2 linked regions of the Homo sapiens genome follow. The protein of the gene in region 1 interacts with the protein of each later gene in a pairwise test. Each region holds a gene or a part of one and is shown on either strand. Other genes may lie near its edges.

Region 1 (5,420 bases):
ATGACGTGATCTTGGCTCACTGCAAACTTTGCCTCCCGGGTTCAAGTGATTCTCCTGCCTCAGCCTCCTGAGTAGCTGGGATTACAGGCATGCACCACCACGCATATTTAGTAGAGACAGGGTTTCTCCATGTTGGTCAGGCTGGTCTCGAACTCCCGACCTCAGGTGATCCACCTGCCTCGGCCTCGCAAAGTGCTGGGATTACAGGCGTGAGCCACCATGCCTGTCCCCAAATACCCATTTTTTAAGAAGGGGAATCTAGTTATGCTTTAAAACATGCATGTCTTAGTTTGTTTTATACTGTTAAAACAGAATACCATAGGCTGAGTAATTTATAATGAACAGAAATTTATTTGGCTCATGGTTCTGGGGCTAGAAGTCCAAAAGCATGGCACTGGCATCTGGGGAGAGCCTTTGTTTTGTATAGTCCCTTGGTGGAAGGCAAGAGAGAAAGAGAGCAAGAGAGGGCAAGGGTGAGGGAGAGCCAGGGGACCAAACTTGTTTTTATTGCAAACCTGCTCTGGTGATAACTAACCCACCCTGGTGATAACAACATTAATCCATTCACAGGGGCAGAGTCCTCATGACCTAATCACCTGTTATTAGGCCTCACTTGCCAATACTGTTACATTGAGGATTAAATTTCTAACACATAAACTTTGGGGGACACATTCAAAGTATAGCAATGTTTGTATGTTAAAAAAAAAAAAACAACAAAAACCAACATACATTTGAGTGTTTTTGCTTTTTTGCTAAGGACAAATTAGCAAAAATAGGATGCTTAGTATGTCTTAGTTTTCCATGAAAAATGATCCTGTGATACAGTCTTCCAAGGAAGGATCCAGTGGGGGGAATCAATCATCTCTGGCTGAAGCATGTTGGTTACTATCTAGAATGCAGTGGGGGCAGAGTCATCAATCTCCTGTAGTTCTTAAGGTGGTGAATGCCAAACTCCCTGGAGGATGATTTGTGGGGATGCTTTATTTTGTTATAGTTTCCAAAAGGAAGATGTGGTTTTTGTTTAAAATACAAGTTTTGGCCGGGCACGGTGGCTCACGCCTGTAATCCCAACACTTCGGGAGGCCGAGGAGGAAGGATCACAACGTCAGGAGATCAAGACCATCCTGGCTAACACAGTGAAACCTCATCTCTACTGAAAATACAAAAAATTAGCCAGGCATGGTGGCGGGTGCTTGTAGTCCCAGCTACTCGGGAGGCTGAGGCAGGAGAATGGCATGAACCTGGGAGGCGGAGCTTACAGTGAGCCGACATTGCGCCACTGCACTCCAGCCTGGGCGACAGACCGACACTCCGTCTCAAAAATAATAATAATAATAATAAAATACAAGTTTTATTTTTATGTAGGAGTAACTGGCTCAGGATTCCCCTTTGATTTTGGACGTAACCCCTACAAAGGAAAGCGCCCTTTGAAAGACATAATTGGGTCGTACAAAAATCGTCACAGCAGTGGTGACCCTTCAAGTGAAGGCACATCAGGCAGTGGCAGCGTCAGCATCAGGAAGCCGGCCTCCGAAATGCAACTGCAGGTCCAGAGCCAGCAGGAAGAGCTGGAACAGTTAAAGAAAGACCTGTCCAGTCAGAAGGTAACTTCTTCTTCTGGCTTCTGTCTTACCCCACCTCAGCAGGCCAAGGACGGGAGGAGTAAAGCCCAATTTATGTTTCCCTGAGTCTTTCTGGGGACAGCTTTGTTTCCCAGGAGTTGCTTTTCCCCTGGAGGTTTCATATTGCCATGGCGGTCATCTAGGCACAGCTGCTGTGCTTGATCATTGGTTCAGAGGTGTTTGCATTTGCAAGGAGAGTGAAGATCTCTCAAAGGAGGACAGAGGAGGTTGCTGTCTGCACCACAGCCCAGTCCTGCCCCTGAGGTTGAATCTCCCTAAACACAGTTTCAGCCCAGAGTTCTTTAACAGTCATTAAAAAGAGTTTCTGCATCCTATTCAACAATGGTTTCTTGAACTAATCAGATCTAATTACATTTAATTGTTCAGCAGTTCAGTGACTCTTAGAGCACAGGTTTTTTAATACCCATGACATTTACTGGATACCATTGCTAATTATAGTGGACATGTCCATTATTTCCTGTTTCCTATTACTGTTCTCTACAGACAGTCTTTATGGAGTAAATATTTTTTTCCTCTATTTTTGAGATCCTTCAAGAGGAAGTTCAGTATTAAAATGTTTCCAGTAAAGTTTCTACATTTCCTCAAACTCTGTCGATTACTCCATGTAATGTCATGATTTCTGCTTTTCCTCCTCTCCTTGCTCTTTTCACCCTTCACTCCATTCTCCTTTTGGCTCCCAGGAGCTTGTTCGACTGCTCCAGCAGACAGTCCGGTCATCCCAGTATGACAAGTATTTCACAAGCAGCCGGCTCTGTGAGGGGGTCCCAAAGGACACGCTCGAGCTTCTGCACCAAAAGGATGATCAGATTCTGGGCCTTACCAGCCAGCTGGAGAGGTTCAGCTTGGAGAAGGAGAGTCTTCAGCAGGAAGTAAGGACGCTGAAGAGCAAAGTGGGCGAGCTCAACGAGCAGCTGGGAATGCTCATGGAGACCATCCAAGCCAAGGACGAGGTCATCATCAAGCTCAGCGAGGGCGAGGGCAACGGGCCTCCTCCCACCGTGGCGCCCAGCTCCCCTTCGGTTGTGCCTGTTGCCAGGGACCAGCTGGAACTGGACAGGCTGAAAGTAAGAGTGGGGCAGGGGCTCTGGTGATTGGCATGAGAGACCACCGATGTCACCCCAGAGGCCTGGCCTCCGTGAGCTGATTTGGTGTGACGGCAGAACAGCTGCACACTTATTTTTTTTCCCCACAAGTGTAACAGGACTTACCATCAAATAATCATTAATCTTCTGTGGAGCTTCCTTGGAAAAGGAAACTCTTGCTGTTGCTTTGAACAGTTTCAAATCCTTCCCCTCCCTTGTTTTCAGGCAACTAAGACTTCTCTTTCTATATATACCACCCTTAGTACTTCATTATCCCTTGTATCATATGGAGGCTGTTTCTTGCCTCTCCTGTGTGCATGAAATCACACACAAACTTAATTTGCACAGCTTGCTGCAGGACCTAGTGGATGCCTGGTTTGGGAGCATTGCTCCTAACAGCTAGTATGGGGTTAGCTGGGGAAGCGGACTCCAGCTTCCAAGTAGGCCTGGGAAGAGGGCCTGTTCAGAGTCAGTGCCCCCAGCACCCAAGATGGGAGGGTCCTGACACTCAGTAGGAAGGACAGCTTTCCTCCCCGTGTCCTTCTCTGGGCTAGCCCTTAGGCTGGGAGGCTATTGCCTGAACAGAAGTGACCCTCCTAGTCATGCCTGGGGTGGTGACCAGCTGATGCGGTAGGAGGAACACACAGCATTTGTGAGAGGTGGGGGCAGCCTGCATTTCTCTTCTTGCCTGTAGAGAAGCCTAATGATTCAGAGGGGAGGCCACAGGGAGGATCATAACATTCTTGCTGCCACCGGTTCTTGAGACTTTGTGGGAGAGGTTTTAGGTGGACAAGTGGCCCCCAGGACATGGGGCATCAAGTATAGCCTGTTTGACCCCAGCAGACCCCAGACATGTCTGTAGCTACTGGTCTCACCTAGCCCCAAGGCGTCCCTCACCTGGCCACCCTCATCTTGCAAATAATGTGTCTCCGAGGGTGTTTGGCTCTGGATGGAGCTTGTCCTTGGAGGGCAGAGGTTTGCTGCTGTCCAGGTTGTTACTGAGTATTTGCTTCATGCCTAGCAGTACCTTTCAGGCGATGCATTGAGTGAGGGAATGATAGGCATGCTAGGGACCCTGAAGATAATTCCAAAACAGAAGTAAAAACACCGGAATCATGGCAGCATGGCTGGAATATGTACATGGTCCCCATAGTGACCACTTCTCACTGACAACACCCATTGGATATGTGAGGCCCAGAGGATTTATGAATGAGAAAATCCAAAACAACAAGAAAACCTCTGGTCTCAATACTTTACACTTATATCTACTATTTAAAAAAAAAAAAGTTGGCTGTGCATAGTGGCTCACGCCTGTGATAGCAGCACTTTGGGTGACTGAGGTGGGCACATTGCTTGAGCCCAGGAATTTGAGACCAGTGTAGGCAACATAGTGAAACCCCCGTCTCTATACAAAAAAAAAAATGGCCAGGCATGGTGGCTTGCACTTGTGGTCCCAACTACTCAAGAGGCTGAAGTGGGAGGATTGCTTGAGCCCTGGAAAGCAGAGCAAGGCTGCAGTGAGCGGAGATCCTCACACCACACTCCAGCCTGGATGACAAAGTGAGACCCCGTTGCAAGAAAAAAAAAATAGGCTTTGTGGTTTTTGTTTGTTTGTTTTTTTAATAAGAGGTCTTGGTTAGCATTGCCAATGGAAGTTGGGTTTTTTAATGTACACAACATTGAATATACATGACCCTAAATATATACCCATCAATAATACACATTTTGGGATTACTTAATGAAAACAGAAATTTTTATTTTTATGTATTTATTTTTTTTGAGACAGTGTCTTGCTCTTTTGCCCAGGCTGGAATGCAGTAGTGCAATCTCAGCTCACTGCAGCCTTAACCTCCCTGGCTCAAGAAATCCTCCAGCCTCAGCCTCCTGAGTAGCTGGGACTAGAGGCATATGTCACCACACCCAGCTCATTTTTATATTTTTAGTAGAGACAGAGTTTCGCCGTGTTGCCTGGGCTAGTCTTGAACTCCTGAGCTCAAGTGATCTGCCTGCCTTGGCCTCAGAATGCTGAGATTACAGGCATGAGCCATTGCATCCAGCAGACAGGTGAAATTTTTATTTTGCAAGTGTGTCTATTTCTGTAGTGCGTAGAACAATACTATAGTGGTGGGTTTCCAGGGCGTGCGTGACACTTGGCAGTGGGGGAGACGTGTGGAGCAGGTTTTCCCGGGGAGCGAGCCAGGGTGTGCGTGGAGGTTATGCTTCGTGGCTGTGGCGACTATGCAGCTCCTTCTGTAGACAGCTAACGGAGCTGATCGGGATACAGCGCTGTCAGAACAGGACATTCCCTCCTCTTTTCTTTTTGCAGCATAATGGGTGGAGTGGTTTTGAGCCATGAAGTTTTTTTCCTCCAACATTTCTCAACTTAACAAGTTTAGCAATTTTTAACAACTTAACAAGCCTGTGGCCCCAACATATCACAATTGTGAGGTGATGTGGCGACAGACGATGAAGAGGCAAAGTGGTTGTTAGGTGGATTCCAGGTGAGACAGTTGAGGCCTGCCTGGGTCCATGACCTCATGCTTTCTGACATTGCTCTGTTATTGCCAGTGCTGGGGGTCCCTCTGCAATGCAGAAGGTGTTCACACCTCATGCAGGTCTCCTCTGCAGTGGCACTGGGAGAACTGGAAAGGCTCCAGGGAGAAAGAGGGAGCGCACTGACAGAAGTGGGTGTTCT
Region 2 (4,460 bases), on another chromosome or scaffold:
CTTGTGAGTTCTGGCTTCTGTCTTCTCTTCAATTTTATCTGCCACTCTCCCTTCAGCATCCCGCTTCACCGTCAACACCCAAAGCTGAAATTCTAATTAAACGATTCCCTGAATTCTTTCCTCAGCCTTTCTTGTCGAGGCTTACTGTTTTTCTTTCTCTCTACTCCTCAAACCCTCGAAGTTCTTCGATGTTCTGGCCTTTGCTTTTGCTGTTGCCTCATCCAGAGTGCTCCCTAACCCCAGACTTTTTCACTCTAGCTTCGGTTCACATTTCATGTCTTAGTTCATATATTGGCCTTCCCTGGCTGACCCTGTGATCCAAAGCAACTTTCCTGCCTCCCTGTACCTCTCTGCTCTCTCATCTTTTCGGTGGAAATCTGCATATTAGGGATATAGACTCTTAATCATATTGATGCAAATATTTTTCCACACTTGTTTGCCTTCCCATGTTCACTTATTTGATGTACTAAAGTTTAAAATTTACCTGTAATAAAATGCATTGCTCCTTTCCAGGTGGTTTTTAATATAATAATAAAGACTAATAACAGCAGCTAACTTTAGTGTTTATTAGGGATCTTTTAAATTCAGGTCCTTTTTTAAGTATGTAATAAACTAGTTAGCGGTAGAACTGGTATTTTAACCTAGGTCTACCTACCTGACCTTTTAACTATGCTATGTTGCCGTTGTTCTGGTTAGAACTACTAACTTCCTTGGATCTATACATTAAATAATATAATAAGCAGCACAAAAGGAATAATATTGAACTTCATTTTTGACTGATTTCTAGATAAGGTTCATAATGGAATTTTTTTATTGTGGTAAAACACAACATGAAATGTATCATTTAAACTATTTTTAAATGTATAGTTCAATGGCATTAAGTACATTCACAATGTTGTGCAACCATCACCCTTGTTCATTTCTAAAACTTTTTAATCATCTCAAACAGAGCTCTGTACCTGTTAAACAATAACTCCAAATTCCCTTTCCCCCCAGTCCCTGGTAACCTTGATTCTGCTTTGTCTTTATGAACTTGTCTACTCTGCGTACCACACATAAGTAGAATAATACATTTGTCCTTTTGTGTCTGGCTTATTTCACTTAGAATAATGTCTTCAAAGTTCATTTATTTTGTAGCCTGTATCAATATCTCAGTTCTTTTTGTGGTTGAATAATATTCCATTGTATAGCTGTACAATTTTGTGTATCCATTCATCTGTTGATAGACACTTGAGTTGTATCAATTACCTGCTGACCATTGTGAGTAGTGCTGCTTTGGATATTGGTATATAAGTATTGTTTGAGTCCTTACTTTTAAGTTTTGGGGTATAGACCTAGCAGTGGAATTGCTGGATCATATGATAATACTGTGTAACTCTTGAGGAACCACCAGCCTGTTTTCCGCAGCAGCGGCACAATTTTCCATTGCATGAGCACTCCGTTTCCTCTACCTCCATATTCTCCACTTGTTATTCCATTTTTTAAAAATAATAGCCATTCTGATGGATATGAAATCATATCCTATTGTGGTTTTGATTTGCATTTTCTTAATAACTAAAGATGTTGAGCATCTTTTCTTTTTCTTTCTTTTTTTTTTTGAGATGGAGTTTCGCTCTTCTTGCCCAGGCTGGAGTGCAGTGGCGCGATCTCAGTTCACTGCAACCTCCGTCTCCCGGGTTCAAGCGATCTTCCTGCCTCAGCCTCCCGAGCAGCTGGGATTACAAGTCCCTGCCACCATGCCTGGCTAATTTTTTGTATTTTTAGTAGAGATGGGGTTTCACCATGTTGGCCAGGCTGGTCTCGAACTCCTGACCTCAGGTGATCCACCCACCTTGGCCTCCCAAAGTGTTGGGATTACAGGTGTGAGCCACTGTGCCGGGTTGTTGAGGGTCTTTTCATGTGCCTGTTAGTCATTTGTTTTCTTCAATACAGAGAAGTGTCTGTTCAAGGCCTTTGCCCATTTTGGAATTTTCTTTTTGTTATTGAGTTGTAGGCTTTATATATTCTGGATCTTAATGTCTTATTGGATATATGATTTGCAAATATTTTTCCCCACATTACTGAATTTTCAGTTATAAAAAGTATATTTAATTTCTTTAGCAACATGATAGATTTGCCTCAAACCCAGTGAACATTTAAAAAATATGTCAATAAAAGTTTTTCATCCTTATCAGCATATCCAGTATGCTGTTGCATTTTTACAGTCACTACATAGATGCTTCTGTATTTTCTAAATTTCATTTAACTTTATTTATATCTATTTTCCCATGTATTTACATGGCTTAAATGTAACATTCTTTGCTGTTCCTTTCTGTTCCTGTACAGCCTCTAGCACAGTACCACACTCTTTCTAGCTTACTATTGAGGTTACTATTGAATTGATAATCCTTCTGCTATCGTTTTATCAAATGATGAAGGTTTATTTAGCCCAGATTCTTTTTTTGTATTATATGTAGTTCTTAGTTGCAACCCACAGAATCCACTCTAGCTAACATAATCAGGAAAAAAAAAATTAAAAACATTTGGAAACTCACAGAATCTCCAGGACACCCAACAAACAGGTTAGGTGAACAGGAGCACTGCCCACACTATAGTGTGGGTATGGCCACAGTGAAGCTTTATCCCGACATCACAGCTTACACCAACAGTGCTGGGTTCTGGAAGCCAGAAGTGCTGTCGCAGTTTTCCCTTGAGAGGTGGATGCCTCTTACCACCTCCCTTGCCAGAAAGATGGGTTTCCTCGTTTGTTTAAGTTCTTCCATTGCTACCTCTGAATTGAAGTCTCTCCTCACACTGCTAACTCTAAACTGAGGTCTTATCATGTGGATGCAGGTGGTTGGTAGACACTAGATACCACGGCCAGACAAGGGAAGCTGAGAAGGTGAGTTCTGGCTTCTATTTGGGGAAGGAAGGATCCATACTGTGGCAAATTTTCAAACACAGGAAACATAGGCAAAGATTCTAGATGGCCACAGTATAACAATGTCTATTACATTTTTAAATACATATTTGACCTATACAGAAACTACTTATGTGTACTTTGATATTTATGTCTGCACAGTCTACAAAGTTTTGGCTAATGAGAATCTTCCAAGTGAAAATATCTTCTTTCAGAAAGCAGTGGAAGAAGTAGTGTCACAGGTTATATATCAGTGGAGCCTGCAAGGTCACCTGCAAATATATGCAAATAAGATTCTGTATTTTTCTCATTTTAAAATGTAGTATCAGGAGAAGAGTAAAGTGTGGTTTAAGGTGGTGAATAAAGGAAAGCTCTAGCTGGATGACTGTTTTCTATATAGTCAAATATTGGAGTCAGCCTTAAAAGCAAAAAGGCCTGTCTGCCAAATAGCTTCTAAAGCTCTTCCAAGGAGTTGGCTTTGAGTTTTACCCCATAATACTTCATTGTGTTTAGTAAGAATTACTCAGCCTTAATATTTTCTTTTAAAATGCTAAGCATCTCATTTGTCACGTATTAATTATTCATTTTCTGAATCTCTTTTGTCTTTGTTCCTCAACGACTTACATGCCAACTTGGGAGTCTACTAGACCAGCTTGTAACTGGGTGTGTTTGTAACTGAATCAGGCAACTACATTACGATGAAGTGTATTTGTATGTAGATATGAATGTCACCTAAGGATATTTTTATAGCATCAGTTGTTAGGGGCTGGCCTATGAACCGCTTAATTTTTTTTTCAGTTATACATACCTGTCTTTGGGATTATAAAATTTTCCTTTTCATGCCTCTTTCCTTCTAGTTACTCTTATATAGCAAGTCATATTTAAAGTGAAGCAACGTAAAAAGTTGTCCTATTAAAATAAATTTATCATTTCTTCTCTGGCAGCTGTGGAAGTTAATAAACTTGAAATACAAAAAAGAAATACGTAAGATGAATTTTGAGTATTCAGTAAAAGAGAACTTTAACTTCCCATTAGACAATTGAATTACTTATCTTTTCTTGTGAGGAATAATGTGTGCTTACTTCACTGCAAAGTATTTTTTGGGGTTAGGGGTAAATTTTTTTTTTTTCAGCTTCTAGATTCAAGGGGTACATGTGCAAGTTTGTTACTTAGGTATATTGTGTGATGCTCAGATGTGAGGTATCAATGATCCCACCACCCAGGCACTGAGCATAGTACCCACAGTTAGTTTTTTAACCTTTGCTGCCCCCCTTCTCTCTCTAGTAGTCCCCGGTGTCTATTGTTGCCATCTTTTTGTCCATGAGTATCCAATGTTTAACTCCCACTTATTAGTGAGAACATGAGGTATTTGGTTTTCTGTTTCTGTGTTAATTCACTAAGGATAATGGCCTCCAGATGCATCCATGTTGCTACAAAGGATATGATTTTGTTCTTTTTTATGGCTGCGTAGTATTCCAATGGTGTATATATACCACATTTTCTTAATTCAGTCCGCCATTGATGGGCACGTCTTTGCTATTGTGACTAGTGCTGTGATGAA

Evidence for each region. Proteins that work in one complex are often made in the same cells at the same time.
Region 2: the proteins of TBC1D2B (region 1) and TRDMT1 interact in a two-hybrid assay, tested with the Homo sapiens proteins (one large-scale study listed by BioGRID and IntAct).

The regions. Positions count from the first base shown.
Region 1 is NC_000015.10:78,021,443-78,026,862, reverse strand, and holds part of TBC1D2B (TBC1 domain family member 2B), read left to right. Parts: intron 1-1,365; coding exon 1,366-1,604; intron 1,605-2,323; coding exon 2,324-2,707; intron 2,708-5,420. UniProt on the Homo sapiens protein: GTPase-activating protein that plays a role in the early steps of endocytosis.
Region 2 is NC_000010.11:17,195,173-17,199,632, reverse strand, and holds part of TRDMT1 (tRNA (cytosine(38)-C(5))-methyltransferase), read left to right. Parts: intron 1-4,460. UniProt on the Homo sapiens protein: Specifically methylates cytosine 38 in the anticodon loop of tRNA(Asp). Has higher activity on tRNA(Asp) modified with queuosine at position 34.